Linked DNA regions of Homo sapiens: region 2 is linked to region 1. The links come from fine-mapping of genetic effects on gene expression. A gene starts in region 1. The other region holds a variant in brackets. All regions are shown on one strand. Distances are between the middles of the regions. Region 1 holds the start of CDH15 (cadherin 15). Region 2 holds the start of SLC22A31 (solute carrier family 22 member 31).

Region 1 (15,115 bases):
CCTCCACCTGCTCACCTGAACCAGGGGGTAGGGGAGACGCTTGTGGTTCTCGGATACGCTGATCGGGGGGATGACCCAGGCCCTCCGCACGCGGCTCAGGGCAGGCGCCCGGCGCCAGGGGTACAGGGTGGTGGGCCTCCTCCATCCAGGAACCCCCAAAGACAGGCAGAGGCTCTGCAACAAAGACAGATGCGTCCCACAGTACCGTCTCCTGGAGCCCTGGGCGGCAGCGTGCAGCTGGGAGCTGTGGGTGGTGAGGAGGCCACGGGGCGCAGTGTTTCCCTCAGCCCACGGGTCGGTGCCCATTGGCGCAAGGCGGCTTCCACACACGGGGCTGCGTAGCACAAGGGCAAAGGCACGTGAGCCCCGCCCCCGTCGGACTGAGCCAGGGCCTTGGTGGCCACACCCCAAGTACTGGCCCTCAAAGCCCCCATCCAGCTGCCCCCGAGTCTCCTACTGGGCCCACTCAGCAGCCAGGCTGTCTGCAGCCCCTGGCGAGTGCATGGGCCACTGGGAGGTAGCGCTAGGGTTCCAGGCCTCTGGCTGGGAGGGACACCTGAGATTCACCCGGCGGGGACACAGCCTCGCCCCAGGTGCCAGGGTAGCGGTGCACACGGAAAGCCCCTGGGCCAGCCAGGGCTGGGGAGAGCGTGGGGTCCTGACACGGAATGACCCCAAGAAGCCAGTGGCGGTGCCTGTGGGCACAGTGGGCTGGCTGTGGAGGGTCCGGGGGAGCGGCAGGGGAGGTGCCTGCAGGAAAGTGCCCGTCCCCCTCCACCTCTCCAGGCTGCTTTGTGGGAACTGAACCCCGGGATGCGAGAGTTCAGCTCCAGTCCATCAAGAGCAGCTGGAGATGTATCCGTAATTCATACAGCGGCCCCCAACTGGACTGTGCTGTGTGGCTGAACCGGCCTGCAGCTGCTGCTGGTCTGTCAGGTCCCAACACGTCAGGGCTGGGCAGCCAACGCTGGTGGTGCGGGTTCCTGAGACTGACTGGGCAGGGGCCAGGGCTGCCTCGGTGGGGCTGGGTGGGGTGGGGCTTGTTGTGGCTGCACAGCCAAGAGGGACATGGCTGGGGACAGAGGGGCAGCCCCACCCCCAGCCTCACTCTTCTTCTCCCAGAACAGGGTACCTCGGTAAAATCTTCATCTCTTCACCCCAATACTTCAGCTGCTGGGACCCTGGTGTGCCCATCTCCTCCTCTCCCACATCAGGGGCTGGGACGCACTGTTTGTAATGCACACGGGAAGCCCTGGTGCTCGGGGATGGGGCCTGGGCAGAGTGTGGGGTGCAGAGGGAGATGCTGTGCACCCCACCCTACTCCAGGGCCGGGACGACCCTCAGGCCGGTAAAGACCCCAAAGTGGAGGTGGCTGCCCCCAAATTCTCCCGAGGTCCTGACGGTCAGCAACTTTTGTGACCACAGATAGCCCCACACCCACCCCTCAGATGGGGAAACTGAGGCCTAGAGAAGGGACCCAAGTCCAAGAGCCAGGTGGAGAGGGGCACTCGTAGTGACCCCAAAAGCACATCCTGAATTTTCTGGTTTTAAAAATGCGGTCACCGTACCCAGCTCCTAGCCTGGGCCTTGGGCCTCCCTCCTGGGGTGCCCGGCCCCACCTTGGTCAAAGGGAAGCTTAGAGACGGCGGGTCCTGCCTGTCCTGGGATCCCCAGGACACCTGTGCTTGGGACCCCCGAGCCTGGGGAGTCAGTGTTTCTGGGTGGGCTGCATGGCTCTTCCTGAAAGACCCCTGACCCTAAAGCACAGCCTGGTGGAAGCTGCCGCAGCTGACAGGACATGGCTCTGGGCTGACCCCACTCGGCTCGGCACGGACATGGGGGTCACCCTCGAGCTCCCCGGTCAGGCTGATGCCTGGTGCAGCTCGTTGGGGCACAGAGTCTGCCTGAACTTGGTGAGGGCAGCAGGGGCCAGGGCTGGGGGAGAGGCAGGGGAGAGGGAGATGAGGGAGGAGGAAACAGGGCTGCCCTCTCCCATCCCCTGTGCCCTCTCCCCGTCCCCTGTGCCCCGGGCCTGGCTAGGAGCTGTCTGTGCCTCCCTAGTCCTGGGGGTCGCCAGGCTCCCGGCCTTTCTCTCGGGTGACCCTCCTCCCTGGAGGCCCCCTCCCACCCAACAGCGCTCTCCTAGCTGCCAGAATGTTCTAGATATTCACCATCCAAGACCCACAGGCCACATGGGGCTGCTGAGCCCTTGAAATGTGCCTGGCAAAAGTGAGGAGCTGTGTTCCCCTTTCACCTCATTGTGGTTAAGGCCCCATGTGTGGCCAGCACCCAGCCCCACATGCCCAGCGCTCACAGCCCCAATCAGCCTTGGCGAGGGTACCCCGACCTTCCCAGCCCCCCACTGCAGGGCTGTGGGGGTGAGAGACCCGAGGCCCTTCCCGCCCCCCACCGGTACCACGTGTAGTGAGGGTGTGGCGTCTGCATCGTCCCAGTGACAGGGGCTACAGAGGAAGATGCTGAGTTGGGGTGGGCAGGGTGGGAGGCTTCCAGGACCCTGTGGCCAGGGTTGTGGTGGGGGTGGCAGCAGCTCCCCAAGGAACAGACCCTAACGCAGAGACGGGGCAGCCTCCTGCACCACCCGGCTGGGAGGGGACAGAGACCCCCTACCCCGGGCCATGCTCTCTGGGGCACCCCCACCCAGGACAAGCCCTCAGGCTGCTGGGCTGCCATGTCGGGCAGGGGGACGGGTGGGAGGTGCTGGGGGTCCCAGGCAGGCGATGGGGAGTCTGGGAGCAGAGCAGGCCCCAAACATCACCCACCACACACAAACTCCTCAGCTCCCCTTTCAGACAGGGCCCCCATCTTAATATCACCATCTTCGCGGCCTGCTCCTGAGCTCCTTCCCCATCTCCACATCACCGTCTTCGCGGCCTGCTCCTGAGCTCCTTCATCTGGACAGCAGGTGGGCTGGGGTCTAGGGAGGCTCACGGGACTCCCCAGCCGGCACCAAGTCCTGTGCCTACTACAGAGGTGTGCCGGCCACGCCACACCAACACCTAGAACAGCTCCCCACATTGTGCGAGCGGAGGGAGCACCGAGTCGGCCCTGGTGAGCGGGACCCTGCGTGGGAGGCCTCACCCAGCTCCCCGCTGGAAGGGGGCACCCGCTCCAGGCAGGGTGGGGCCCCATGAAATGGAGCACCGAGAACCGGGGGGTCAGAGCTGGGCCAGCTGGGCCGCCCCTCCCCCTGCAAAACCACAGGTGTCGACAGCTACTCTGACCACCACGCCCCTGCTGGCTCCGAGGCTGCCCGCTCTCCTCAGCCCCGTGCCAATGCCTCACCCTCCAGTGCCGCCTGCTCCTGCTGGCTTTGCCGAGACTTCAGTCTAGGCAGGGGCCGGGACGTGGGGGCATGTGGCCTTGAGAGGAGGCAGCGGTTGGGGGCTGGTAAGTCTGAGTGGGCGGGGGCCGGGAAGGAGATGTTGGCATGGCCAGGAAGCCTGTCAGGCCGAACCCCCATTAGGCTTGGCCTCTGTCCTCCACCACCGGCCGCTTACCCTGTGTGGACGAGCAAGGCCCAGGCTGCCCATCTGCCCACCCTGAGATGGGGCACTGGGGCCTCTCGCTCTGACTGTGTCCTGTGCCCAGGGCTGGCCCAGCACACAGAGGTCCCCACAGGCAGCGGCAGCAGCCTCCAAACCATGGCCACCTTCCCTGGGGTTCTTGGTCCTCGGCCAGCAGGACCTGAGTCCCCTCCTCCATGGCCTCCTGGGAGTCCAGAGAGTAGCAAACGCTTTGGCAGGAAGCAGGGAGAGGATGGGGTGGGGGTTCCTCAGGCTCCCAGGCAGGGGACCCTGCCGGGGAAGCTCTCTGCCAGCTGACAGATGGCGGCCCTGGCCTCGGAGCCTGCCAGCACCCACAGAGCACAAGCCACTTCCAGGGCAGGGCAGCTCCTGCCAAGTGGAAACCTGCCTGCCCAGCATGGGGCCTTCATCAGCCTCGGTGGGCACAGGGTCTGTTTCCGGCCGTGGCTGGGCAGCTTTGCACCTCCCTCTCCCCCTCCCCTTTGGTCCTCCCAACCCCCCGGGAGCCTGTGGTGGTCCCTTCACCTCCCAGCTCTGGGCAGTGAGGTTCAGAGAGCCTGAGGCATTTGCTCAAAGCCACACAGACAGAGCCAGGAGTCACGTGGGGTCTGAGACCCAGATTAGGCTCTGAACCGCATGCTCTGAAGGAAATCCAGCCACAGAGCCACACCGGCCTTGGGCTAGGCATGGGCATGGGGCAGGGAGACCCCAGGCTCTAGGAACCCCACACGGCTGAGGTGGAGGGGCCACCCCCACCCGGGCAGACGTTTCCATCCCCTCCCTGCCCAGCTGCCACCAAACCTGGGCCAGCCCTGTTCACCCAACCTCCAGCTGCCTCCACCGGAGACCCTCCAGTCACGCTGGGCCGGGTGTGGTCAAGCCAGAGGCTGGGAGTCCTGGGCCCAGGCCTGTCCACAGCCTGAGTTCACCAGGTCACAGCAGCCACAGAGCCTTGGCAGGGCTCACTTGCCCAGATCACGGCCAATGTGGGTGTGGGTGAGCAGGCTGGCCACGGCCCACTTCCGGCTCTCGGGGGCGTTCTCAAAGCTGGCTCTTTGTCCTCCCACCCCATCCCCGTCCCAGAAGACGTGGCCAGTGGAGGGAGGGCCTGGGAGCCGTCCTGGGGAGATCGGGACATCCGGTGCCCAGGACAAAGCCACATCAACGCAGCCAGCCCACAGCCCTGCACCTGGGGTAGGGGACGCAAGCACCCTGGGAGGTGGATTTTGTGGACACTCGTCCACTCCTCTCTGTCCCCCACCCAAGCCAGGCAAGACCCATGGACATTAGTGACCTGCTTCCCCACAGGGGGTCCCCAATGACACCCCCAAGCTCATCCTCGACTGGACCCTTAGCCAAGAGCCTGGAGGGAACCACCTCGAAGCCCTTGAGACGTCTGGGGCCACCGCCCTGCAGCCAAGCTCCTGGGACTTAACGCCTCTCTTGAGGTCTGCTCCTAGCCTGACACTCAACCCCAAGGGGCTGCTGTGTAAGAAAGCTCTGCACACACTGGGCGCTTGCTGCAGTCTACAAACACCACTGCGAGGTGGGAATGGGGTTTACGAACACCACTGCGAGACGGGAACGAGGAGCGGTTCTGGGGCCGACCTTGCACTCCTGCTCCCCCGGTTTTCCAAGGAAGGGTGCTACGAGATTCTAGGAACACGCTTGGTGGCGTGTGGGTGGGTTTGCCTGGGAAGAGAGTGCGAAGGCCCCTCAAGCTTCTCAGGCTTCAACCCCTCCCCCAGGCTGGAATCTGGGGCCACCCCGTTCCTGGATGGCCAGGCATGCCAGGAATGGCCCCAGCTGTTGGCCTGGCCCAGAGCGGCTGGAGCATCTTCCCTGGGCCCCACCCTCTCTAGCTGCTGCGGGCTTCAGAGAAGGGATGTGGAAGAAGAGGCATGGAGGCAGCTGTCCCCTCCAAAGCACGGTGTCTGGGGCTGTCCTTCCACTGTGGGAAGAACAGTGGCCTGGGAGCCACTTCCCTTCTTGGCCTTGGTCACAGTCACCCGAGCTAAGAGCCCCTGCCTGGCCCCCAGGGTGCTGCTGACTGTCTCCCAGAGACCAAGGGGCTCCCAAAACCCAGATGCAGAAGTGGGGACCTTCCCAGCAGGCTGGGGTTCTCTGTGAGTCAAGTGTGCTGCCCCAGACCTCAGCCGCCTCCCAGCTGGGGTGGGGTCCCAGGTGTAGAACCAGCAACTAGGGATGGTGTAGGTGCAGCAGGGCTGAGAGGGGCCAGTTCTGAAGACACCCTCCGGGTGGGGCTGAGTGAGCTCAGCAATCAGAGGTGGCCCGAGCAGGGGAGCAACCCCTCACTTGTAGAAGGCCCTGATGGGCCCACGCTGCCTGCCTGGGGGCTCACCAGGAGGCGGCCCAGGACCCCAAGGCTGCCCAGGAGAGCTCACAGTCCTGAAAGCTGAGCTGCTGGGGGAGGGGCAGGCAGGGTCCTGACACTGACATATTTTGCCTCACAGTGGAGTGAATTTGAGCCTTGGCGATAGTCCCCTTGCCATCTGGCCCCCACCTCCACCACCTCCCCCAGCCTCCAGCTGTCGGGGGAGGGGGTTATTGTCCCCCAGCCCTGGGCGAGAAAAGAAGGGACAGTGAGAGGGAAGGCTTCTGAGGAGGGAGAGGTCCTGCCTGCCTCCCCACCTGCCACAGAGCCCCCTGGGGCCTTTTGAAAGGCAGACACTCCCAAATCCAAAGGAAGAGGTCTGGAGGAATGTTTTCACAGGCGCCAGCCTCCCCACCACCATGCCCTGGGTTGGGGTGCCAGGGAAGAAACCCTGTCCCCAGAGCAGGTGGGGAAGGGCCCTGGAGGCATGGAGCCCCCCAGCCTGCGCTCCCCGGCAGAGGGCTGAGGGGTGGAGGGCCGGGGGGTGAGCACGCATGCTGAGCCACTGTCTCCCCCCACCACTGTCTCCAGATGGGGGAGTCGGGGGTGGCAGGAGCCGTGGTGCCCTCAGGGGCAGCTGCTGGAGGGTCTGGCTGGCCAGGCGCCTGGTCAGCTGCCAGGGGCTGAAATTGGAGCCAGCTGGAGCTGGGAGGCCTGTGGGAATGAGGGGACTCAGGAAGCCCCTTCAGTGGGGGCTGGGAAAGGAGTGGCTTCCCTTACTCACTGTGTCCAGCACTCCCTGACCACCCCAGGACCACAAGAGCAATGAATACTGTGAGCACCGCTAAGCCCTTTATGTGCATTCTCTCTCGAATTGGCCAGAGAGAGGCTGCCCTCTTGTACCCAGTGACGTCCCAACCACAGCCGGCCATGCCCCAGCCCAGCCCAGTCCCTGGGGGCTGAAGCCACTGAGGCCACATCCTCCATGTCTAGGTCCCCCTAGGGTGTGAGGAGACGTGGCTCCAGCTAGGCAGTACCCATGTCGGGTGTGGGGGGCTGAGGCCTGGGCTTCCTTCCACTCTGGCTTGCTCCCACGTTGGAGAGACCACGGTGCCAGCAGTCCAGACAAGATTTTTAGGGGCAGAGTCCAGCAGCCTCTGGGGGCTGGGCCCCCAGGCCTGATCACCCCAGGCAGCTGCGGCAGGGTCCCAGGTGAAGCCCAGGAACAGAGCCCCCAGGGCTGCCACACGCCACTCTGCAAGGCCGTGTGTTGCGACCTGGCTCGGGCTGGGCCCTCCCAATCGAGAAGTAGCCGTGAGGGTGAGTTCCTGGGGGCAGGGCCTGCAGCCACCCCTGCTGGCCAGGAACTTGGGGTGGGGGGTTTGGACAAAACCCAAGACTAGCCAGGGGTCCTGTGCCCACCGCAGGGAGTCCCTATAGAAACCTGGCCCCCAGCCCCCCAGAGAGGGGCACTCCTGCCGCTCCCCCCTCTCTCTGCTCCACTCAAGACTGGCAACCCCCAGACCCCGGCAGCGGTTCCTCCAAAGAGAGGGCACGGCTACCTGGGTGGCCCCTGCCTGGGGTCCCTGACCCCAGCAGCACTCTGCAGTCCTGGGGGTGATTCCACCAGATGGAGTGTTTGGTTACACTCACTCCCCACAACCCCTGGGGTGCTGCCCCCAGCCCAGGGACCCACCCGGAGCCACTCCGCTCACAGGCCCCCAAAGGCGACCAGGGCCAGTGGTTCTGGGGGAGACCTGTGCGGCTGCAGTTGAAGACACTGTCCCGCAGCGTCGAGGGAGGCAGCGGGGACCCCCGCAGGTGCCGATGCCTTACCTGGGCCAACAGCCCGAGGACGAGGAGGAACGCGGCGTCCATCGGGGCCGAGGCGGGAGCCGGGCCGGAGTGCACCCGCGACCCGAAGAAGCGCGTCCAGGCTGAGTGACAGCGCAAGTGCGCGGGGCGGGCCAGGGCCAGAGACAGAGACAGCACGTGTGAGGGGGGCGGGGAGGGGGCGGGGCAAGGGCTGAGTGACAGCACGAAGGAGGCCTCTGACGGGCCGAGGGCCGGCCTGGGCAGGGCTAAGGCTGAGTGACAGCGTGTTGGCAGGCGGGTGGGGCGGAGCCTCTGGCGAGCTAGGGCGGGGCGCAGGCTGAGTGATAGCCCGTGTGCGAGTGGGGCAGGCGGGGCGGGGCCGGGGCCGAGGGCTGAGTGACAGCGCAGGTGCGCCGGCGGGGCGGTGACCGCACGAGGCTGGTGGGGCGGAGCCAGAGGAGGATGGGGCGGGCGGGGCGGGGCCGAGGGCTGAGTGACACCTTGTGAGAGTGCGGGGTGGGGCCGGGGTGGGGCCGGGGCGGGGCCGAGGGCTGAGTGATAGCTTTTGCGGGGTTCCGGCGGGCAGGGCCAGGGCTAGGTCGGAGATACCCCGGCTTGCTGCGTTGGGAGCAGAGCCAGAGGCCAGGCTGTGGGGAAGGCAGGGTGGGTGCGTCCGGGTCAGGGACCAGCTGGGATTCCTGGCTTCTTCATTTCCTGCTCCTTGGGCCCGGCTCGCCCCTGCTCCAGGGAATCTGCATTGTAGTCCCTGCCGGGGGACACCTCTTGAGCACTTCCTTGGGCCCCTCGCCTCTCTGGCTGCGTCTCCTGCGCCTCCCCGCATCCCACTGAACGCTAGGCCCGCCTTCCACGCACCTCCTCGCGACCTCATTTTGCCCAGCTCTTATTCAGTATGGAACTGCTCTGGTTCACACGCCTCTGATACCAGCGTGGCTCGTAGGACACCCCCAATTCCCCCAGTCCACGCACCTCCTCCAGCATCCCCTTGTTCCCCGAGGCCCCCTGCCTGGAGCACCTTCCTTCCTACAGAACTCCTTCTCATCATCCCTCAACACCCAAGGTCAACGCTGCCGCCTCCTGGAGCCTCCTTGCCACCTCGGCCAGAAGCCCTCCCTCCTGTTGACTGTGGCACCTGTTCTCCCCTTCGAGACCCCGCCCCCTGGGATGGTGTGGGTGTGGCTCAACACCTGCACAGGCCCAGCGCACGGTCAGGAAGGTCCTGGAGAGGGGGTGGAGGGGGCTGGAGGCAGGAGGATCCTTTCTTTTGAGCAGGCAGGGTGGGGAGTGGGGGTTGCCGACCAGCCCAGGGCCGGGCCGGGGAGCCCGTTCCTCTCTGTGATGGGAGCAGACCCGGTACCTCTGCTCTCCTGTCGACGGCGGGTGGCTGTGCAGGTGCAGGCAGCATCTGTGCACTTGGCCTGCTTGAAAGGAGGCCAGGCTGCCCGGGAGGCTCAGGCCAGGACTGTCCCTAGCGCTCACTGCTCCAAGATGAGAGAGGGCAGGGAGTCCATCTCCAGACTGGGAGGCCTCTGGGGCTGGGGTGTAGCCTGTTGGGGACCACCATCCTGCCTCTGTGGTCAGTGACCTCAAAATAGGGGTGGAGAAGCCCTCTGAGTGCTTTTGGTTTTCATCCTCACGGGACTAGTGCAGGGGTGAGGTAGAAGTGCTCGCCCTCCCCCCAGAAAGAGGTCTGGGGAGGCTGCGGTCTGCCAACCCCAGCTCCTCTCCGCTTCCACCCTGCACCCACCTCGCTTCAGCCACCTGCCTCCCACCCACCTCGGGGAGAAACGGAGGCCAAATCCCTCCTCCATGGGATGTGGGGGTCTCTAAGGGAAAGGCTAAGCTGGGCCAGGTCCTGGGTGAGCCCCAAATGCAGGGCGGGGCCAGGGAAGCAGCCGGCTTAACCACTGCGGGAGGGTGTGCTCCCTGGCTGGCGGGCTATCCCCCAGGGGCAGGTGCCCCCGCGAGGGACCCCGCTCCACATGCTCCCAGGGCAGCAGGAAGGTCAGGAGGCAGGAGCCTGGGTCCAGTCCCAGCTCGGAGCCTTGGGCTGGAGGTTCTCCCCCGTGCCTCAGTTTCTCCTTGTGTCAGAGGTAGGTGGCAGGGAAGGGCTGGGTACCCTGAGTCTGGAGGTCCTGTGCAGTGGGGGCAGGGGTACATTTTCGGCTGCAGGACCATCAGCCCTAGAAGAGCCCTTCCCTTTCCTGGTGGACCTGGAGACGCCGGACCCTCCCTCAGCACCCCAAGCCTCCAGCTAGGACCCCACTCTGGGCCTTCTCCTCCTTTTTCCAGAGTCTGCAGTCCTGAGCCTTTGGGACTCACCCCCATCACTCCTGCCCTCTGCCTTGCCCACCTCAACTCTCCACCTCGGGGGACGCACCTCATGGGCATGAGGTGGGGGTGGGCCGGCCAAGATGTAGAGGGGGCTCCCTGGTCCACAGCCTCAGTTCCCATCCTATTTCCTCTCCCCAGTATGAGGAACGGGGGGACAACAAACAGGGTCCCGGACCCCCCAGGAGCCTTGCAGTCTTGGATGTCCCAGAGGTCCCCCCACCCCCAGCCCTTGGCCACTCCTCCCAACACCGCAGGCAGTGGTCGAGGCTGGGCTAAGGAATTTCCAACTTTCTCACGATAGATGCAGGCGGGTGCCGGTTTTCAGCTGAGATGCCATGGTGTCTGCTCTGGAGTGATTCTGTAATTGCACAGTGCAGTAACGGCACTTGACCCTTGATTATTAAATTGTATTTATGTAATTACAGTGTATAAATATACATGCACACCCCAACCACTAAGGGGCAGGCGTGATGCGGAACGCTGCGGTTGAGCAAGGTGGGCTGGACAGGGGCCCTGTGGAGGCCCAGGGCTTAGGCCAGTCACAGCCCCGTTACCGAAGAGGCAGTGGGGGCTGGAGGGCAGGGGTTAGCAGCTGTGAAGGCGGCTCCTACCCAGGGTGTGGGGCGTGGAGGGCAGAAGGGTGACGTCCAGGGAGTTTGGGTGACACCCGACACCAAGGGAGGGGACCCCGGGGTGAGGAGGCCCTGGTCTTGGTCTGGGGGCTGTGTCCATTCCAGACCTGACCTGAGGCTGGGGTGCCTGTGGCAGGGGCTCTGGGGGCTTGCTCTGCAGGTACCAACTGCTCCCTGAGGAGCCCCTGGGCAAGTGCCCCTGTCTGACAGGCAGGGCCTGAGGCTGGAGGAGGCCGGGGTGAGGAGACAAACACAGGTGGGCCCTGGCCGGGAGCCTGGCGTCGGCCATGGGCCATGCCCTTCCAACATTCTACTCTGGCCGGGAGGCCGCCAGGGCGCTGGGGTGAGGCCGACACCCAGTCCTGGGGCCGTCAGAGCACAGACCAGCCCATCTAGGCAGATGAAGGTCCCCACGGAGTGAGTGAGGGGTGGGGAGTGGATCCAGAAGGGCTGGGGCCACCAGCCCCCACGGCCCCTGAGCCCTGGCCTGAGTGCATGTGGCTGGCTCTGGGTAGTGGGCCCTGCAGAGGGACTTCCGCCCATAAGTTTCCCGTAAGTTTCCCCGGGACAGAGGAGACGCAGCTGGATCTCGGGGTGTGGAGGAAGCCAGGCAGTGTCTGTAGCTGGGGCCATCCTGGACCCTGCTGTGCTCCGGCTCTCTGGGCTCAGGGGTGACACTGCCCCCACATTCAGGCAGGCCACCAGCTGCCCCTGGCGGCCACAGGGGGTCAGTCCAGGTGGGCTCAGAGGAGCCCCATCAGGTATGGGGGTGCCGTTTTTGTTCAGAAGCCCCTGACCCCCCCTGCAACACACATGAAAAGAATATTCGAGAAGTCTGTTTAAAACATCTTGGGCATTCAAAACACACGGACAGACAGACAGACAGACAGACGGACATGTTAGACAGGAGGGGCTGCTGGTGGGGGCGGGGTGGTGCTGGCCCTCCTGAGGACCTGGGGACAGCAGGTCCCTGGAGCCTGACGGTCAGTCCTGGCTCTACGGGGAGTTGGGCACAGAGGGGTCAGGGGGTGGCGGGCCTGTCTGGGGCTCCCTCAGGCCTGTCCCTGACCTGGGGAAGTGGGGTCCTGTCCTGCCCAGCCAGCCTGACACTGGTTTTGCGTCCCATCTCCCCACAGTGACAGAGGAGCCAACCAGGCACTGGCTCAAGGTGCAGCCGTAAGAGCTCGGGTGGGCTCAGGACTGGCGGGCTCAGGGCTGGCGGGGTCAGGGCTGGTGGCCTGGTGGCCCATCACACCCGCCAGCCCCGGCAGGGGGCAGTGTGGCTCCAGGGATGCCAGTGGAGGCGGGTGGGGGAAGGGCAGCGGGCTCCTCCGATTGCTGGAGGGTGTTCAGGGCAGAGCTGGGAGGGGACGATGGGCTCTTCCCTGCTTCCGTCTCCATGCTGGACATGCCTGCCCCCTCCAGGCCGGCCCAGCACTGTCACCAAGCGTGGACGCCTTGACTTCCTGCCCTTGGAGCCCCAACCCGGGCAGGGATCAGGGAGGCCAGCGGCCAGGCATGCCCCAGGGGGGGGCTGCAAGTGTGGTCCATGCCCACCACCCTTTCCCTGGCCCTGAGCACTGGGAAGGTGGGGGGCAGCTCACCTGAGGTCTCACCTGGCGTTGGCCCTGAGACCACCCGAGCCTCCCCGATGGCTGAGGCGAAGGCACAAGGGTGGCCAGGCCAGCAGGGACTCCTGAGGTCGGGCCAGGCCCCAGCAAGGCTGAGGCTGAGTGGGCGGAGCTGGCCACAGGGGTGGGGACGTGGGACAGCACTGTTGGGGGAACCAGAGAGCAGAGGTCACCAGGCTGCTCCCGATGTTCAGGCTTTCACAGGGATCCATAAGCTGCAATGGCCCCCAGTCAGCACCCTCCAAAGACAGGCTGTGGCTGGGGATGGGGCTGGGGCTGACGGTGGAGTGGCCCACACCCCCCAAGGCCCCTAGAGTCCTGACCATCCCCACGGGTAGTGCCGGAGCTCCCAGCTGCCTTGTGAGTCATGGGGGTGGGAGCCTCATTTGGCTGAACCTCAGAAGGGCAAGTGGGGCATGAGTGGCCTTGTCCTGCCCCAGCCCAGAAAGCTGTGGTCCCGGAGAGAGTGGCTGTCCAGCCCCCCACACCATGCGAACGCTCCCCTCCCCAGCAGATCCCACCCATGGCAGGCCCATCTCTACCCAGTTCCAGACATCTGTCCTCTCCCCCGCTGCGTGGGTCTGTGTCCCCAGCAAATCCCACCCATGGCCCATCTCTACCCAGTTCCGGACGTCTGTCCTCTTCCCTGCTGCGTGGGTCTGTGTCCCCAGCAGATCCCACCCACGGCAGGCCCGTCTCTACCCAGTTCCGGACGTCTGTCCTCTCCCCTGCTGCGTGGGTCTGTGTCCCCAGCAGATCCCACCCACGGCCCATCTCTACCCAGTTCCGGACGTCTGTCCTCTCCCCTGCTGCGTGGGTCTGTGTCCCCAGCAGATCGCACCCACGGCAGGCCCATCTCTACCCAGTTCCGGACGTCTGTCCTCTCCTCCACTGCATAGGTCTCTGTCCCCAGCAAATCCCACCCACGGCCCATCTCTACCCAGTTCCGGACGTCTGTCCTCTCCCCTGCTGCGTGGGTCTGTGTCCCCAGCAGATCCCACCCACGGCAGGCCCGTCTCTACCCAGTTCCGGACGTCTGTCCTCTCCCCTGCTGCGTGGGTCTGTGTCCCCAGCAGATCCCACCCACGGCAGGCCCGTCTCTACCCAGTTCCGGACGTCTGTCCTCTCCCCTGCTGCGTGGGTCTGTGTCCCCAGCAGATCCCACCCACGGCCCATCTCTACCCAGTTCCGGACGTCTGTCCTCTCCCCTGCTGCGTGGGTCTGTGTCCCCAGCAGATCCCACCCACGGCAGGCCCGTCTCTACCCAGTTCCGGACGTCTGTCCTCTCCCCTGCTGCGTGGGTCTGTGTCCCCAGCAGATCCCACCCACGGCCCATCTCTACCCAGTTCCGGACGTCTGTCCTCTCCTCCACTGCATAGGTCTCTGTCCCCAGCAAATCCCACCCACGGCCCATCTCTACCCAGTTCCGGACGTCTGTCCTCTCCCCCGCTGCGTGGGTGTCTCTGTCCCTCCCTCAGTGCCCCAGGCCTCTGTCCTTTATCCCCATAACCCAACACTGTGACAGGAGGGAGGGAGGAGGGTGGAAGAGGGAGCAGGAAGGGGCCGCAGAGGGGAGGAGGGGCTCCGCATGCTCTGGGGCCCTGGAAGGAAGGTCGTGTGACGGGGTCCTCCTGAGCATGCTGGGCCCATGGTAGGGTGGGCATGGGGAGCACAGGGCAGTGCCCCCAAAACCTGTCCTCCCCGTCAGCCACAGGCACTGAGCACCCCGGAGAGGGCAGTGAGAACTGCTGGCTGCCCAGGGAGGGCGGGCGGGGGTGCTGTCCTTTGCAAGGACAGGAGCTTCTGGGTAGGGAGAAGGGCACGGGGTAGGGATGGGAGTTAAAGGGACCCCGGCTGCATCTATAGTCCAGGGGCTGCCTCATCCCCAGTGTCCCTGAAGGTAGCCTGTGCCATGGGACAGTGGCAGTGCCCTGGCCACCCAGCCTGGCTCTTGGAGCTGGGTGGTGCCCAGACTGGAGGAGGCCAGGGTGGCTGCCTCCTGACCACCATCTTACTGTTCCTACCATCCCGTCTCCTGGGTGGTGGTTGGCACCTGTGGAGGGCAGGGCTGCCTCAGGAGCTGGCAGCTCTCAGTTCTGATCCCTGGACATGAAGAAACTTGGGGTAAGGCCCCCAGTCCTCAGAGAGACCCTTTGAGCTTCCGGCTTCGTCATCGGAGGAGCCCAGCATTGCCCTGGGTCATTCCACACCCTGCCCTTTGGGGGGGCCGGCCAGGGCCACGGCTGGGAGATGACGGTCCCATCTGCTAGAAGCTTCTGGAAGGATGGGCCGCCTGGTGGCAGGCGCTTCTGGGCCAGAGCTGGGTGGGAGGGAGGGCAGAGGCCAGGGGGCGTGTGCTGGACACGGAGGGCACCAGGTCCTCTCCGCTGCCTCCTGCTCTTCCCAGCACAGCTGTGCTTGGCACCCCTGCAATCGGGGCAGAGAGGAAGGGGTTAGGGGTCCCTGAGTCAGCTCAGGCAGCCCCGCCCCTCCCCACCTCCTCCATCGTCTTTCAATCAATATCAAGTGGACGGGAGACAAATTTGGGAGCAAAGAATCCCAAGCAGCCGTATAAATCACAGTAACGACCATTCAGATTAAATCAGTCGCTGTAATAGAATCAATTTAGCTGACGCTGCCAGTCTCCCCGCGTTTAATCTCCGTCTCCAGCTGCTGGTGGGAGAGAGGCTGTTCAGCGACCCCTCCGATGACCCCTCCAGGCCTGGCCCACAGGCAGGGCTCTGCGGCCGTCAGGGCTGGGAAGAAAGGCTGGGCCGTCCTGGGGGATCAGGGCTCCAGGGCCCA
Region 2 (15,115 bases), 23 kb before region 1:
CTGGTCCGCGGAGCAGGGCGGGGGCTGCAGGGCCCTGGAGGGGCGCGGAGAGCGGCCGCCGACGGGCGGGCTCTGCTCGGGTAGAAGCTGTTCCGGAGCCCGAGAAGGTGCTGGTCCCGCAACACTGTTGGGGGGGCCCCGCTGAGCTGAGCCTTGCGACCCGGTTTATGTGACGTGAGTTCCACCTCAATCTAAGTGTGAGGAAGCGAACAGCGTTCTGAAACGCAGAAACGTGCCCATTCGAATTGTTAACGCGAGCGCAGAGCCCACTGACAAAGCAAAATAAGACAAACCGGGAGTCAGAAAACTCAGCGACCCACAGGATCCACCGTGATGTTTCCCACAAATGTTACCGCGAAAACAGTCGGACTTGAAAATAAACGCGACCTACCTGGTTCTCGGAAGGGGAGAAGGATCCGGGCGAAAGGCGTCAGTTCTCCCTCGCTCGCCCCGTAGACGCAGCGCAGGCCCCGAGCTCCCGAGCGGCGGTTTCAGAACCCGCGGGTCACCCGGGAGCTCCTCCCGCAGTACCAGCCGAAAGCTCCCAGCGCCGAGGAGGGCGGGCGGCTGCCCTCCCCGACCTCGCCCCGCCCGCGCGGACGCCCCCGGCCCCACGCGGGGACCACCCCGGGACGCCGGCCGGAGCCCGCGCGCCCCCGGGCAACCTGAGTGCACCTGCGCCGCGAGGGCACCTGAGCGCTCCCGGCCACGCCCCTGCCACGCCCCCGGCCCCCACGTGCCGCCCTCACGGGGCCCCGCCCCCTCGCGGTTCGGCCGCAAGCCCCGCCTCTCAACCTTCCCGCCCCTCAACCTCCCCGCCCTATGCCCCAGATCGGGCCCCGCCCCTTTACGCCTTAGGCCCCGCCCTCACACCGCCCGCCCCCACACCCCGCCTCCACTGGACTCAGGCTCCGCCCCTTAATGCCTCGCCCCAAAGCCCCGCCCCAGGAGCCCGCCCTGGTCCAGGCCCCGCCCCGTCCCGAGCGCAGCCTGCGACCGATGGAGCAGGAGGCGCGGGTGCTGAGAGCTGCGGGCGGCTTTGGCCGGGCCCGGCGCCTGCTGGCCTCCGCCTCGTGGGTACCCTGCATAGTGCTGGGGCTGGTGCTGAGCTCCGAGGAGCTGCTTACCGCGCAGCCCGCGCCCCACTGCCGACCGGACCCCACGCTGTTGCCCCCAGCGCTGCGCGCCCTGCGCGGACCCGCGCTGCTGGACGCCGCCATCCCGCGCCTGGGGCCCACGCGAGCCGCGAGCCCCTGCCTGCTCCTGCGCTACCCCGATCCCGCGCCCTGCACCCGCCCCGGGCCCGCGCCCCGCGCCCGCACGCAACGGCACCCGGCCCTGCACACGCGGCTGGCTCTACGCGCTGCCCGGCGCCGGCCTCCTGCAAAGCCCGGTCACCCAGGTGCGCCCCCGTCCCTGCTGCCCCGCAGCCCTCCCCGCCCCCAGCCCGCCGAGGCCCTGGGTGTCCTTTCTCCATCCTACCTGGCGCCTCTGACCCGGGCCCCCCGGCCGTCCTCCTGGGCTTCCTGCTCCGGGGCGGCCGCCGGCCCGACGGTGCCGCAGACGGGCGCGCACGGGCCGGACCCGCGGAGAGGGGCCGGGCGGGGGCTGAATCTGGGCCTGGGAGCTGCCAGGCGCGGGGCGGCCTGGGGCGCTGGAGGATTGGAGCCGAAGGCGCCGGTGGGGGAGCAGGGCCTGGAATTTGCTTCAGGACCACCAGCGTCTTCAGCAGACCGTGGCTTTGGGCTGGCTTTCCAAGGCAGAGTCTCTGCTTGGAGGGACTGACGTGGTCAGCACAGACTGGGGAAGGTGGGCTTCCCATCAGTGAGGTGCGCAGAGGCTGGGCTAGAGACTGCATTGCCTGAAGGGAAACCTTGACGATCTGCGTGAGAAGAGATGGGGAGGCGGGCGGCAGGGACCTCCAGGCCCCTTTCATGCCTTTCCGCGCTGGGGCTGAGACCTGCACACCCCTGAGGCAGCCTTTACCCCGAGGCCCCCATCCCCCATCCTGGGAGGACTGGCCCCAGTGTGGAAACTGGAACGGGGTTGCCACATCTTCACAAGGGCTGCCTGGGGCCCTGGAACCCGCCGGGCTTCTCTCTCCACCCTGCTCCCTCCCACCTCCCACCTGCCCTCCTCCTGTTTGGTGCCTGGATCCAGGAATGCCCCATCAGCTTTCCCAAAACGTCAGGTTTGAAAGTAAAATCTCGGGCATAGCACGGCCCCCAGCAGTAGATTAAGCTTGCCAAGAAGACCCAGGAACCGGAAGGGGTGGGGGGAGGCGCAGAGCTGAGGTCAAGGGTCAAGGGCCTCACCGGGAAATGCCGCTGAGCACAGCTCTCCAGCCGCTGCCCGAGTCCCTCTTGAAATGGGCAGGGCAGGGAGGGCGTGGGTACCAGCGCAGGTGCTGGGGTTCATTTCTTAGGCCTGTGTCATGGCTATGACCCTTGGCCGGCTGGGGTGGGGGCTGTGTCTATGACGCCACCAAGGCCCTGGGTGTCCCCGGGGTCCCTCGGAATAGGAGGTGGAAACGGGTCGGACAAGAGCTGGCCGTGGGGGAAGAGCAATGGTGTGCGGAGGTGGGGGAGGCCCTATCTAGGGACAAGCAGAAAACTTAGGGTGGGCAGATCCCCCCGACCCCTGTGCAGGGGCTGCCGGAGACCAGAGAGGCTGCTGTGTGACCTGGACCAAGCCCCTTGCCCTCTCATGCCTCAGTTTCCCCTTCTCTCCACGGAGGGATTGAGCAGGACATGGAGGGCCCCTTCCAGTAGCCATTCTGGGACTCCCTGCACCTGTCCCCAGGGGAGGGTCCTGAGCTGGCCTCCACGTGGCTGCTGTTCCCCATAGTGGAACCTTGTGTGTGGAGACGGCTGGAAGGTCCCGCTGGAGCAGGTGAGCCACCTCCTGGGCTGGCTGCTGGGCTGTGTCATCCTGGGAGCAGGCTGTGACCGGTGAGGCCCCTTCCCTTTTCCTGCTGCCCAGCAGCCCTCCCCTCCGCCCACTCTCAGGGTTCAGCTAGACCTGGTGCTGCCAGGATGAAGGTTGGACCCTGGGTTATCCTGACCCTGTCCAAGCATGTCCCCCGCTGCCCACCAGGTTTGGACGCCGGGCAGTTTTTGTGGCCTCCCTGGTGCTGACCACAGGCCTGGGGGCCAGTGAGGCCCTGGCTGCCAGCTTCCCTACCCTGCTGGTCCTGCGCCTACTCCACGGGGGCACATTGGCAGGGGCCCTCCTCGCCCTGTATCTGGCTCGTGAGTACCCTGGGGGCTGCTGTCACTGGGGGAGGGGCAGTGGGTGGCCCGCAGGCCTCTGAGGCTCCCTTGCCGAGGGCCCCGAGCTGCAGGGACAGTGAGCAGTGAGTCCCTTGGGCATCCCGCTCCTGGGCAGGTCACCAATAGGTCCCCGCAGTTCCCAATGGAACTGTTCCAGTCCTCCCCGAGGCCTCCACTTCAACCTGTCTGTGTCTGCCCAGGCCTGGAGTTGTGTGACCCTCCCCACCGCCTGGCCTTCTCCATGGGGGCTGGCCTTTTCTCGGTGGTGGGCACCCTGCTGCTGCCCGGCCTGGCTGCGCTTGTGCAGGACTGGCGTCTTCTGCAGGGGCTGGGTGCCCTGATGAGTGGACTCTTGCTGCTCTTTTGGGGGTAAGTGTGGTGGGAGCTGGGCCAGCAGCCCTCATCGGGGCTGACTATGTAGCTTCCCTCTGCACCGACGTATCCCATGCCAGGTAAACGCATGGGTTACAGGGTCACAGAGAACTACAGTGATGTCCTGCCCCTGAGCCTGGGGGTGGGGTGGGGGCCCTGGCCTTTGCCTCTCCTTCCAGGAGGAGGTGGAGGGAGCCGTGGGCATCCTCACCAACGCTGCAGGTTCCCGGCCCTGTTCCCCGAGTCTCCCTGCTGGCTGCTGGCCACAGGTCAGGTAGCTCGAGCCAGGAAGATCCTGTGGCGCTTTGCAGAAGCCAGTGGCGTGGGCCCCGGGGACAGTTCCTTGGAGGAGAACTCCCTGGCTACAGGTCAGGCGCCTACCAGGGAGGAGGGAGATTCAGGTACTGGAGGAGGGCTTCGGAGAGGCACAGCTCCTCACCCCCCTCCCCTCACATCTCTGCGGCTACAGAGCTGACCATGCTGTCTGCACGGAGCCCCCAGCCCCGGTACCACTCCCCACTGGGGCTTCTGCGTACCCGAGTCACCTGGAGAAACGGGCTTATCTTGGGCTTCAGCTCGTGAGTCGAGGAAGGGCTGGGGTCCTGCACCATCCCCCGGGGTGGGCATATGGTCCCCAGAGTCCCCGGCTCTGGCTGGGCCCATAGATTTGCTCTCTCTCCCAGGCTGGTTGGTGGAGGCATCAGAGCTAGCTTCCGCCGCAGCCTGGCACCTCAGGTGCCGACCTTCTACCTGCCCTACTTCCTGGAGGCCGGCCTGGAGGCGGCAGCCTTGGTCTTCCTGCTCCTGACGGCAGATTGCTGTGGACGCCGCCCCGTGCTGCTGCTGGGCACCATGGTCACAGGCCTGGCATCCCTGCTGCTCCTCGCTGGGGCCCAGTGTGAGCTTGGGGCCCCGCAGGCCATACAGGAGCCATTGTGTTTGGGCCGACGGTCTGCCACACCAGGGGGCCATAGTGCCGACAGGGGAGCAGCCTGGGGTGGCAGCCCAAGGCCAGCTGCTGTTTGTTTTCCTCTGATCCTTGTGGAAGGCCCAAAAGGATCTTTTGTGACTGGCCTAAAGTAAGGAAACTGTCTGAGCCTAAAACACCTGCCCCAGCCACAGAGTGCAGCACAGGCATGAGAGGTCAAGAGGCCGGGCTGGGTAAAAGCTCTGCCCAGAGTTCCAGGTGGCCGAGGCCGGCCATGGACTGGTGTGGGAGGGCCCATATACTCAGGGCCAGCCACATGGTGTGTGGAGCTAGGTGCAAAATGAAATGCAGGCCTTGCTTCCAACGTATTCGAGATTTTAGGACGGTTCTCGAAATTGCAAAGACAGTGGACAGCACAGCAGTAGCTGAGCGTGGGCCCGAGTGGAGGTGGTCGGTGTGGCTGCGGCTCGGGGTCAGGATTCTAACATCCTTAGAATCCAAGCCAGGCTGGAATCAGGCTGCAGAGGACAGGTTCCCCCTCCAGGTTTCTCAGGGGGGCTGGAAAAGGAGGCTTGGAAAGTGGGTCCCCAGACAGTGGTGTGGTTCTCTGGGGAAGGGCCCTGAGTGGCCAGGGTGGAAGGCCTGGGGAGAGAGCCTGGGAACCCCTGTTCTTTGTCCCCAGATCTGCCAGGCTGGACTGTGCTGTTCCTCTCTGTCCTGGGGCTCCTGGCCTCCCGGGCTGTGTCCGCACTCAGCAGCCTCTTCGCGGCCGAGGTCTTCCCCACGGTGATCAGGTGAGCTTCAGGGTTGCCCGGCCACACAGCAGGGTCCAGGGCCTCTCATGGGGAGGAGGGGCCAGGTGGACAGGAGGCCCTGTCCCCATACCCCACCCAGGTTCCTGCCTGTGATTCCTCCATCCAGTAAGGACTCGGGGTAAAGCACTGCCCTGCTCCTGGATGGTGGGGGCCACTGCTCACAGAAGGCTCTGGGCAGACGGCTCAGGAACTGGGAAGGGGAGGGAAGGCCACGCAGGCCTGAAGCCAGGAGTGCGGGGTGGGGGCAGAGATGAGGAGGCCTCCAGAAATGGCAGAATTCTCGGGGAAAGCATCACTTTTCGATCTTCTTCTTCTTCTTTTTTTTTTTTTTTGAGATGGAGTCTCGCTCTGTCACCAGGCTGGAGTGCAGTGGTGTGATCTCAGCTCACTGCAGCCTCCAACTCTCTGGTTCAAGCGATTCTCCTGCCTCAGCCTCCTGAGTAGCTGGGATTACAGGCACCCACCACCACGCACAACTAATTTTTGTATTTTTAGTAAAGACAGGGTTTCACCATGATAGCCAGGATGGTCTCGATCTCCTGACCTCATGATCCGCCTGCCTTGGCCTCCCAAAGTGCTGGGATTACAGGCATGAGCCACTGTGCCCGGCCACTTTCCAGTCTTGAACAGAGCAAAAAGTGCTCCAGGAGAGGAAGGAGGTTTTTCCAAAACAATTTTTCAAATTATCCTCAGCCAGCAAACCTTAGGCTGTGCGGAGGCCGGGCCTTCCCCCTGCTCACTCTGGAGTCACATGTGTGTCCCCCAATCTGTTGCCCCACCAGCTGCCCCCAACGCACTCTCTCCCACAGAGGGGCCGGCCTGGGCCTGGTGCTGGGGGCCGGGTTCCTGGGCCAGGAGGCTGGCTGCCCCCAACACACTCTGTCCCACAGGGGGGCCGGGCTGGGCCTGGTGCTGGGGGCCGGGTTCCTGGGCCAGGAGGCTGGCTGCCCCCAACACACTCTGTCCCACAGGGGGGCCGGGCTGGGCCTGGTGCTGGGGGCCGGGTTCCTGGGCCAGGCAGCCGGCCCCCTGGACACCCTGCACGGCCGGCAGGGCTTCTTCCTGCAACAAGTCGTCTTCGCCTCCCTTGCTGTCCTTGCCCTGCTGTGTGTCCTGCTGCTGCCTGAGAGCCGAAGCCGGGGGCTGCCCCAGTCACTGCAGGACGCCGACCGCCTGCGCCGCTCCCCACTCCTGCGGGGCCGCCCCCGCCAGGACCACCTGCCTCTGCTGCCGCCCTCCAACTCCTACTGGGCCGGCCACACCCCCGAGCAGCACTAGTCCTGCCTGGTGGCCCTGGGAGCCAGGATGGGACCAAAGTCAAGGCCTGGGGCATGGCTGAGTACCCCAGACGTCTGGTCCAGGGCAGACACATTCCTCTCAGAAGCCCGTGTCTCAGTGCAGGTGGAGCCGTGGGGACAGCGTGAAGGTGTCTCCAGCCAGGCCCCAGGCACTGGGAGGCCCTGGGTCTCCCCCCAGCCACACCCAGTAGGTGTGGAGGATAAAGGCTTCTGTGGAACTTGGCGTCCTCCCTGGTTCTTCCCTCAGGCCACACCTGGGGCCTGGAAGGGTCTCACCTGTGCCTGCTCCCCACCTCTGGGCTCACCAGCAAGGAGCCAGGGTGTCAGCGGCTGCTCCATAGCCCCTGTCCAGGTAGTGGCAGCCCCCGGCCGCCTCCTGCCCCAGCCAAGCAGGGTGGTATGGGGGCCTGGCCCTCAGGTCCCTGCCAGGCCAGGCCTCACTGGCCCCATCCCCCTCATGGTCAGTGTGGCAGTGGGCGCCCGTCCTGCATGAAAGAGACTAGCACGTTTTTCATTCAGATTTACCCAGGAGGTTGCTGTCTTTCATACAAAGATGAGGTTCACTGGTAGGAGGCAAAGGTGGGACTAGGGAGGTGACCCGCATGGGGCCGATGGAGAGAAACTCTTCCCACCCCGGCAGGAAGGGGCCTCTTCCTGGCCGCCCCATCCACACTCAGGTTCTGCCCCCAGACTTGGGCCCTCGCCTACAGGAAGGAGGCTGCCCCAGGCCCAGGGGGGTCGGGCCCGGTGACCTCAGGCTGCCTCTGCAGGGGCCATCACTGCCACGAGGCCGGGGAGTGGCATGTCCAGTTGCGCCCCAGGGTCAGGCTGTCCGGCCTCTGTGTCTGGGTAGCAGTGCCCCAGGAGAAAGACCCTCCCTGGCCTGGTGGTCCCATCTGGCCCCGTACTCCAACCCGCACGGGTGCCCATACATGTCTGCCAGCCGGGCGAAGCGGGGCCCCCAGTCTCTGAGGTAGTCGTAGTCCTGGTCCTCATCGCCCTGGCTGGACAGGATGGAGCTCAGCGTCCCCGCCACCGAGCCGTCACCCTCGTAGTCATAGATGAGGGCTGTGTCGTAAGGCGGCACACTGGGGTCACTATCTGCAGCCTCCAAGCCCTATAAAGAGGCCCGGAGAGCTCAAGACACATGGAGGGGCCAGCGGGTGCCCCACCGCCGTGGCCACAGCCCAGGGCAAAGTCAGCTCAAGGCACGGGCTCAGGAAGGGGAAGCTGCCCACGTCCGGGGGCGAGGTCTGAGGGGAGGCAAAGCGTCCTGAGGGCACAGCAGCAGGGTTGTGAAGAGGGTGCCACGGACTACCCCCTTCCTCAGTATTAGGCCAGCGGCCAGCCCGTCCCCCGGGGCTCTGCCCTGCCCCAGCAAGGTGGGAAGGGGTTGCTCCCCCTCACCCTGGTCTCTTCCTCCCCGTGGCCCTTGTCCACTCAAGGCAGAACCCGAGCCTCCTGGACACCCCCATCC[G/A]CAGAACGGCCCGTCTGCCTTTCGGAGGCTCTGTCTGCATGTCTGTCCTCTCAGCTCGTGGGGACACACGCTCCTAACCGGGGGTGTACACCTTGGCTGGGGGCTTTCTCTGAGCCAGGTGCTACAGGTGCAGACAGGCACAGAGGAGGGTTCCCTGTGCGCCCCACACCCCAGATTCCCCGTGTGCACATTCATCCTGTGGATGGCAGGGAATCATTAACGCTGTGTCCAGAGGGTCTTCTATGGAGGCCCTGATTCCGCTGACAGCCACCGAAGCCCAGGGGATGCTCCCGGGGCTCCCCCACCCCCTCCATGGTGGACACGGGGCAGTGGATGGGTCTGTGGCCATCGCCACTCCATCTGTGCAAAGACCCGCGTCGCGGGTGGAGGCTGAGGGCCCAGTTTGGACGGTGGCAGCGGGGCTTCCACACTCCCGCCCGCACACCATCTTCCTCTGCGGTGCTCTGGGACGGCCCATAAGTGCATGCAGGCGCCGGTTCTTGCATGCATGTGCAGGTGTGTACATGTGCATGTGTGTGTGCACCTGTGCGTGCCTGTGTGTACTGGGGTGTCCCCAGGAGCACCTACATCATTGATGAAGTCGGCGATGTCCAGGGGGCTGGTGGGCAGCACTCGGGGTGGCTGGGGGTGCAGGCGGCCCTGCGGGGCATCTCTGCGAAGTGGCGGCGGTCCCAGAGGCAGGCTCAGCGCTGTCGGGTGACGCAGCTGGCTGATGTCGTAGGCGTCCTGTGGGCGAGGAGGTGGAACAGAGCCAGGCATCCCTCGGGTGGCCCTGGTGGAGGTCTCAGGTACAGGCTCCTGGCCAGCTTGTTGTAAGAAGGCCCGCGACCTGGGTTCCTTGGGGACCCCTCCCCACCCACACCTGCCCCCTCACCTGGTCCTCCTCCCCGCCTCCTTGCTCATCGTAGTTGAGGACATTGTCTCGAAGGTCGTCCTGGGGGCCGTGCAGCAGCCCCTTGCCCCGAGACTGCTTCCAGAACCGCGCCCGGAGTGCCACGAGCAGGACCAGCACTGGGGAATGAGGGGACGCAGGCTGGGGCCAGGCACAGGGCGCGACTTCAGGGGGCCGGGCTGCGAAGGAGGTGGGAGGAGGGGGCGGGGCGGGGCAAGGCTGGTAAGCAGGGGTGGGGTTGAGGGGGCGGCAGTTGGGGAAAGGGCGTGTCTGGCATGGAGGAGCCGGGGTTGGGGAGGAAGCCGCGAGGTTAGGGAGGAGGGGGCCGGGTTGTGGAGGAGGGAGCTTGGCTGGTAAGGAGAGGCCGGCTTGGGGAAGAGGCGTGGCTGGCAACGAGGGGGCGGGGTTTGCGAGCAGGGGGCGGGTTGGGTGGAAGCGGCGTGGCTGGTAATGAGTGGGTGGTGTTGGGGAGGAGGCGGCAGTGGAGAAGGGGCGTGGCTGGTAATGAGGGGGCGGGGTTAGGGAGGAGGCGGAGCTGGGGAGGAAGGGGCGTGGCTAGTAATGAGGGGGCGGGGTTGGCGAGCAGGGGGCGGGTTGGGTGGAAGCGGCGTGGCTGGTAATGAGTGGGTGGTGTTGCGGAGGAGGTGGAACTGGGGAGGAAGGGGCGTGGCTGGTACTGAGGGGGCGGGGTTACGGAGGAGGAGGAGCTGGGGAGGAAGCGGCGTGGCTGGTACTGAGGGGCGGGGTTAGGGAGGAGGAGGAGCTGGGGAGGAAGCGGCGAGGCTGGTAATGAGGGGGCGGGGTTAGGGAGGAGGCGGAGCTGGGGAGGAAGCGGCGAGGCTGGTAATGAGGGGGCGGGGTTAGGGAGGAGGCGGAGCTGGGGAGGAAGCGGCGTGGCTGGTAATGAGGGGGCGGGGTTAGGGAGGAGGCGGAGCTGGGGAGGAAGCGGCGTGGCTGGTAATGACGGGGCGGGGTTAGGGAGGAGGCGGAGCTGGGGAGGAAGCGGCGTGGCTGGTAATGAGGGGGCGGGGTTAGGGAGGAGGCGGAGCTGGGGAGGAAGCGGCGTGGCTGGTTAGCAGGGGACGGCCTGGGGAGGAGGGTCCGAGGGTCCGAGGGTCCAGGTGGAGGCGGGGCGCTCACTCACCCAGCAGCAGGAGGGCGCTGGCCAGCACGATGACCAGTGCGCCCAGGCTGAGGCCTGTGCCCCCCGCCAGCAGCGCTGCGGCCCCCGGCAGGCAGACGCCGTCCTTGCCGCAGCGGCACACGGTCACGTTCAGAGGCTGCTCGCGCTGCTGGGGCGGCTGCCCCGAGTCCCGGAGCAGCAGGCTGAGGCGGTGCAGGCCTTCGGGGACCTGGTGTCGCGGCCGCAGGCGCGCGTGGCTCACTGCGGAGGGCGCCTGTGGTGAGCGAGGGCCTCCCGAGGCCGCCCCCACTTCGCCTGCCCTCCTCGCGCCGAGACAGGGTGGGGATCCCGAGATCCTGGGCCTGGGTCCCCCCCACCCCCACCGTCCTCTGGGCACAATGAGTAACCCTGCCCCACGGGAGGATGCAGTGGTGGGGGGGGTGGCGGGAGGGGACCTGTTGCAGGACCACGGGTTTGCATGCCCCTCACCCTCCTGCCCCCGTCCGAGGCCGGAATGTGGGGGTGGGGGGAGCGTGGGGATGGGGGGAGCGCGGCGGTGAGGGGAGCGCACCGTTGACCTGGCTGAGGCTCCAGTTCCGGCCGAGCTCTGGGAGCCTGGGGCTCAGCTGGAAGTGGAAGGGGGCCCCGTGGGGGGGCAGGTCCTCATCCGTGGCGCCCAGGAGGAGGCCTGGGCCTTGGTGTGGCTCGCTGCACAGGCTGCCCGGCGGCGGCGGGGCCAGCACAGGTGCATGGTCGTTCACCTCCAGGATCTCGATGGACAGGGTGCCGGTGGCGGTGCGGGGCTGGGAGGCTGCAGGCGAGGAGGCCGCGGCTTAGTGACCCCAACACCCCAGCCTGCCCCACCAGTCGGCTCAGAGCGGGTGCGCAGCTCTGAGCCCCCGGGCGACATGGGCAGAGCCCTCCGACACTGGCAGGGGTGCTCAGCCGGGACAAGGCCAGGTCAGGGAGCCCCAAGCCGGCGGCGCCGCTCACCGTCATCCTGGGCCAGGACGATGGCTCTGTACCAGCCGCCCTTGAGGAAGGGGGACGCCGGGCTGAGCACGTGCTGGGTCTGGATCCGGCCAGTGGCTGCGTCCACTTGCAGCCAGTCTTCCGGGTCGTAGTCCTTGGAGTAGCTGATGCAGGGGAGGGGAAGAGTGGGATCTGAGTTTACCCCAGGGCCCCACAGGTGTGGTCAGGTATGGGTGCGTGACATGCACTGCACACACACAGGCACACACATACATACCACATGCATGCACACATGCACACAACATATACACACGCACACACAGCCTTACATGCCACATGCATGCACACACCACATACACATACATGGGCATGCACAGCACACACACATGCACATATATACACATAGACACTCCCCCCCACCTTGCACATACCACCCCCCACACACCTATACACCACACGCATGTACCACACATGTGCACACACATATGCACATACACATGTACACACAACCCATGTGAATATGATGGGAGCTGCAGTCACCAGCACCTTCTGTGAGGTGAGGAAACTGAGGCTCAGGGAGGGCAGGCGAGCTGTCCAGGGCGCTGAGACAATTGTGTGGCAACCTAGTTAAGCCTCAGTTGGTGCTGGCCCTTCCCGGGCCCCGTGGACACAGACAGGGATACACAGGGCCAGGCTTGGAGTGAAATGAGATGCGAACGGCCAGTCCCTTGGGAGCAAGGGCCTCCTGGGATGGACACGGCTGGCAGGGACAGACTGGCGTGCACAGGCTGGAGTTGGGCCTGCCCTAGGGGGTGAGGTCACCCCAACATGCACACACGGGCATGCTCGGGACTCGAGACCCTCCAGACCTTCAGGAACCCACACAGCAAATGGCCCCTACACCCTCTGACCCTCAGAGCCCAGGGATCAGGGGCACCCGAAGCAGGAATGGGGCCGTTAGCCTCCTCTACCTCTCCCAGGGCCTCAGGAGCCCCACCTGAGCCTCTGCAGCTGCTCTGTGTCAGGGTCCCGGGCAGAGAAGGTGGCCACCAGAGTGCCTGGGGGTGCCCCCTCTGCTAGGCTGGTCCGAAGTGGGTTCTCCTGGAACACGGGGGGCTCGTTGGTGTCCTGCACATGCACGCGGACCTTGGCCTGGCCCCGCTCAGCCCTAAGGGCAGCCGCCTGCAGCGGGGCCTCATTCTGCACCGACACTTTGAGTTCGTAGTGTTCACAGCTCTCATAGTCCAGGGCCTGAGGGAAGGAAGCACAGCCCGTCATCCGCCCAACGCAAGTGTGGGCACCCGAGGGCAGGTGCCATGGGGGAGCCACTCCTTGGGTCTGTCCAGAGCACCTGTACTTTCCTTCTGCCCCTTTTTAACCTTGAAAAAACAAATTATGCAGGACAAGAAGGCACAAAGAATATTATTAAAATGCTGGTTGTGTGTGGTGGTGGTTGGGGAGCAGCCCAGGGTTCAAGCACATACTCCGCGGGTATTTCAGCGAGGGCCGTTGGGGGATGGCGCCAGCCCCTGCAGTCACTTGATTTTAAATAAAGGAGATCGTCCTGGGTGATGTGGGTTGGCTTTATCCACTCAGGTGAAGGCTTTGAGAGCAAAACTGCATTTTCTCTGCCTCTAAACTGCTGCGTCGGCTCCAGCCTGTGGTCTGCACGTTAGACCTGCCCAGCCAGACCCCAGCACCGCATGAGCCAATTTCTTGCAGTAAACCTCTTACTGTGTCAGTATCTAAATACACCCACATCTACACGTGTGGACATATCTGTGCATGTGTCTCCTATGGCCTCTTTCTCTGGTAGAACCAGGACTGACACAGGTGTGCAGCTGTGATTTTGTACATGGATTCCATATGAAAGGAGGAAGGCTGGACAGAGCAAAGTGGTGGAGGGTGTCCCCTGCCTCTGGCCCTCAAGCCCCATGGGTAGCGTGGCCTGGGACCCAGTCCTCAGGCTGGGGGGCTCCATGCCCTCCCCCACTCTCTCTCACCCAAGGACGAACACAAGGTCCCAGCTGGTCAGAGGATGTGAACCTGCCAGGAAGGGGCTCAAACCCCAGCATGGGCATCTGTGTGTGGGCATCTGTGTGTGGGCATCTGTGTGCGCCAGCATCTGTGTGTGCCGGCATCTGTGTGTGGGCATCTGTGTGTGCCGGCATGTGTGTGTGCCGGCATCTGTGTGTGGGCATCTGTGTGTGCCGGCATCTGTGTGTGGGCATGTGTGTGGGCATCTGTGTGTGCCAGCATCTGTGTGTGGGCACCTGTGCGTGGGCATCTGTGTATGGGCATCTGTGTGTGCCGGCATCTGTGTGTGGGCATCTGTGTGTGGGCATCTGTGTGTGCCGGCATCTTTGTGTGGGCACCTGTGCGTGGGCATCTGTGTGTGGGCATCTGTGTGTGGGCATCTGTGTGTGCCGGCATCTGTGTGTGGGCACCTGTGTGTGCCAACATCTGTGTGTGGGCACCTGTGTGTGGGCATCTGTGTGTGGGTGTCTGTGTGTGGGCATCTATGTGTGCCAGCATCGGTGTGTGGACAGTGTGGGCATCTGTGTGTGGGCACCTGTGTGTGGGCATGTGTGTGTGGGCATCTGTGTGTGCTGGCATCTGTGTGTGGGCACCTGTGCGTGGGCATCTGTGTGTGGGCACCTGTGCGTGGGCATCTGTGTGCCAGCATGTGTGTGGGCACCTGTGCGTGGGCATCTGTGTGTGGGCATCTGTGTGTGGGCATCTGTGTGTGCCGGCATCTGTGTGTGCCGGCATCTGTGTGTGCCGCCATCTGTGCGTGGGCATCTGTGTGTGCCGGCATCTGTGTGTGGGCATCTGTGTGTGCCGGCATCTGTGCATGGGCATCTGTGTGTGCCGGCATCTGTGCGTGGGCATCTGTGTGTGGGCATCTGTGTGTGCCGGCATGTGTGTGTGCCGGCATCTGTGTGTGGGCATCTGTGTGTGCCGGCATCTGTGTGTGGGCATCTGTGTGTGCCGGCATCTGTGTGTGCCGGCATCTGTGTGTGGGCATCTGTGTGTGCCGGCATGTGTGTGTGCCGGCATCTGTGTGTGGGCATCTGTGTGTGCCGGCATGTGTGTGTGCCGGCATCTGTGTGTGGGCATCTGTGTGTGCCGGCATCTGTGTGTGGGCATCTGTGTGTGTCGGCATCTGCGTCTGCCGGCATCTGTGTGCCAGCCGGGGGCCGCTCACCTTCACAATGGACAGAACACCCTCGTTGGTCTTGGGGTCCGTGCGGATGGTGAACTGCCCATCGGGGTCGCCTTCCAGGATGGTGAACCTGGCCACCCAGTTTGGGGAGCCTGGCAGGTCCCTGTCCTCCACTTCCAGGCGTCCCACATCCACTCCGCTGACGGCCTCTATGGCCTCCATGAAGAACTGGGTGGGGGATCCCAGCCCCAGTTACCAGCAGGGCTGGGGGGACAGCATGGGTGGGGCCCTCAGGGCCCTCAGCCCACCCTCCCCTCCCACCCTCCCTCCTGCCTCCCAGCAGGAACACCCTCCCTTGCTCCTGTCGAAGCTGCTCCCCACCCACTGGGTGTCCTCAGGTTTGTCTGTTTTGTGAGTCACTGTCCCCCACGTGCCCCCATGGTCCTCCTCTGTGGGCTCAGCTTCGTGCTCCCTTCCCATACAGCAAAGGCCGGAGGGAGACTTGCTCTGCAATGCGAGAGGGCCTCAGAGGGTCCCATGGGCTGCTTCTCCCCAAGGGCCTCTCTCCCAACTCTGACTCCATTCACACACTGCCACGCAGCACCCCGGGGCCCCTCCAGCTTGGGCTTCCACCCGCCCACGCGGAGTTCCTTCTCCAAAGCACACCATCCTCCTGCCCCATCATGAAGCCCGCTGCCTTCTGCAGGAGCCCAAGAAGGGAAGGCAGCTCTAAGCAGGGGCTACTTTCGAGGGAGGGACAGCAGCAGCACCTCATCCCT

Evidence for each region.
Region 2: its variant is fine-mapped to the expression of CDH15 in cerebellar hemisphere (GTEx, PIP above 0.99). The same link has a PIP of 0.9 or more in cerebellum.

What each region holds. Positions count from the first base shown.
Region 1 is chr16:89,164,475-89,179,589 of GRCh38, reverse strand. It overlaps CDH15 (cadherin 15), which reads right to left and starts at 7,842. Exons shown (of 14, transcript NM_004933.3): 1 at 7,717-7,842; 2 at 16-174. The coding sequence starts at 7,758. It overlaps LINC02138 (long intergenic non-protein coding RNA 2138), which reads right to left and starts at 13,207. Exons shown (of 3, transcript NR_046200.1): 1 at 13,091-13,207; 2 at 12,284-12,453; 3 at 10,443-11,481. RefSeq lists enhancers at 4,126-4,625, 11,123-11,970, 11,971-12,819 and a silencer at 7,767-8,406.
Region 2 is chr16:89,187,549-89,202,663 of GRCh38, reverse strand. It overlaps CDH15 (cadherin 15), which reads right to left. Exons shown (of 14, transcript NM_004933.3): 6 at 15,107-15,115; 7 at 14,379-14,564; 8 at 12,168-12,421; 9 at 11,192-11,334; 10 at 10,770-11,009; 11 at 10,220-10,459; 12 at 9,058-9,194; 13 at 8,751-8,909; 14 at 7,172-7,802. The coding sequence ends at 7,509. It overlaps SLC22A31 (solute carrier family 22 member 31), which reads left to right and starts at 2,127. Exons shown (of 9, transcript NM_001384763.1): 1 at 2,127-2,186; 2 at 2,848-2,951; 3 at 3,097-3,251; 4 at 3,473-3,641; 5 at 3,867-4,012; 6 at 4,114-4,222; 7 at 4,328-4,542; 8 at 5,255-5,366; 9 at 6,359-6,903. The coding sequence starts at 2,163. The coding sequence ends at 6,665. RefSeq lists silencers at 971-1,060, 10,044-10,373 and enhancers at 1,353-1,975, 3,224-3,847, 8,226-8,891, 14,965-15,104. The variant G/A (reference allele first, on the strand shown) is at 8,163.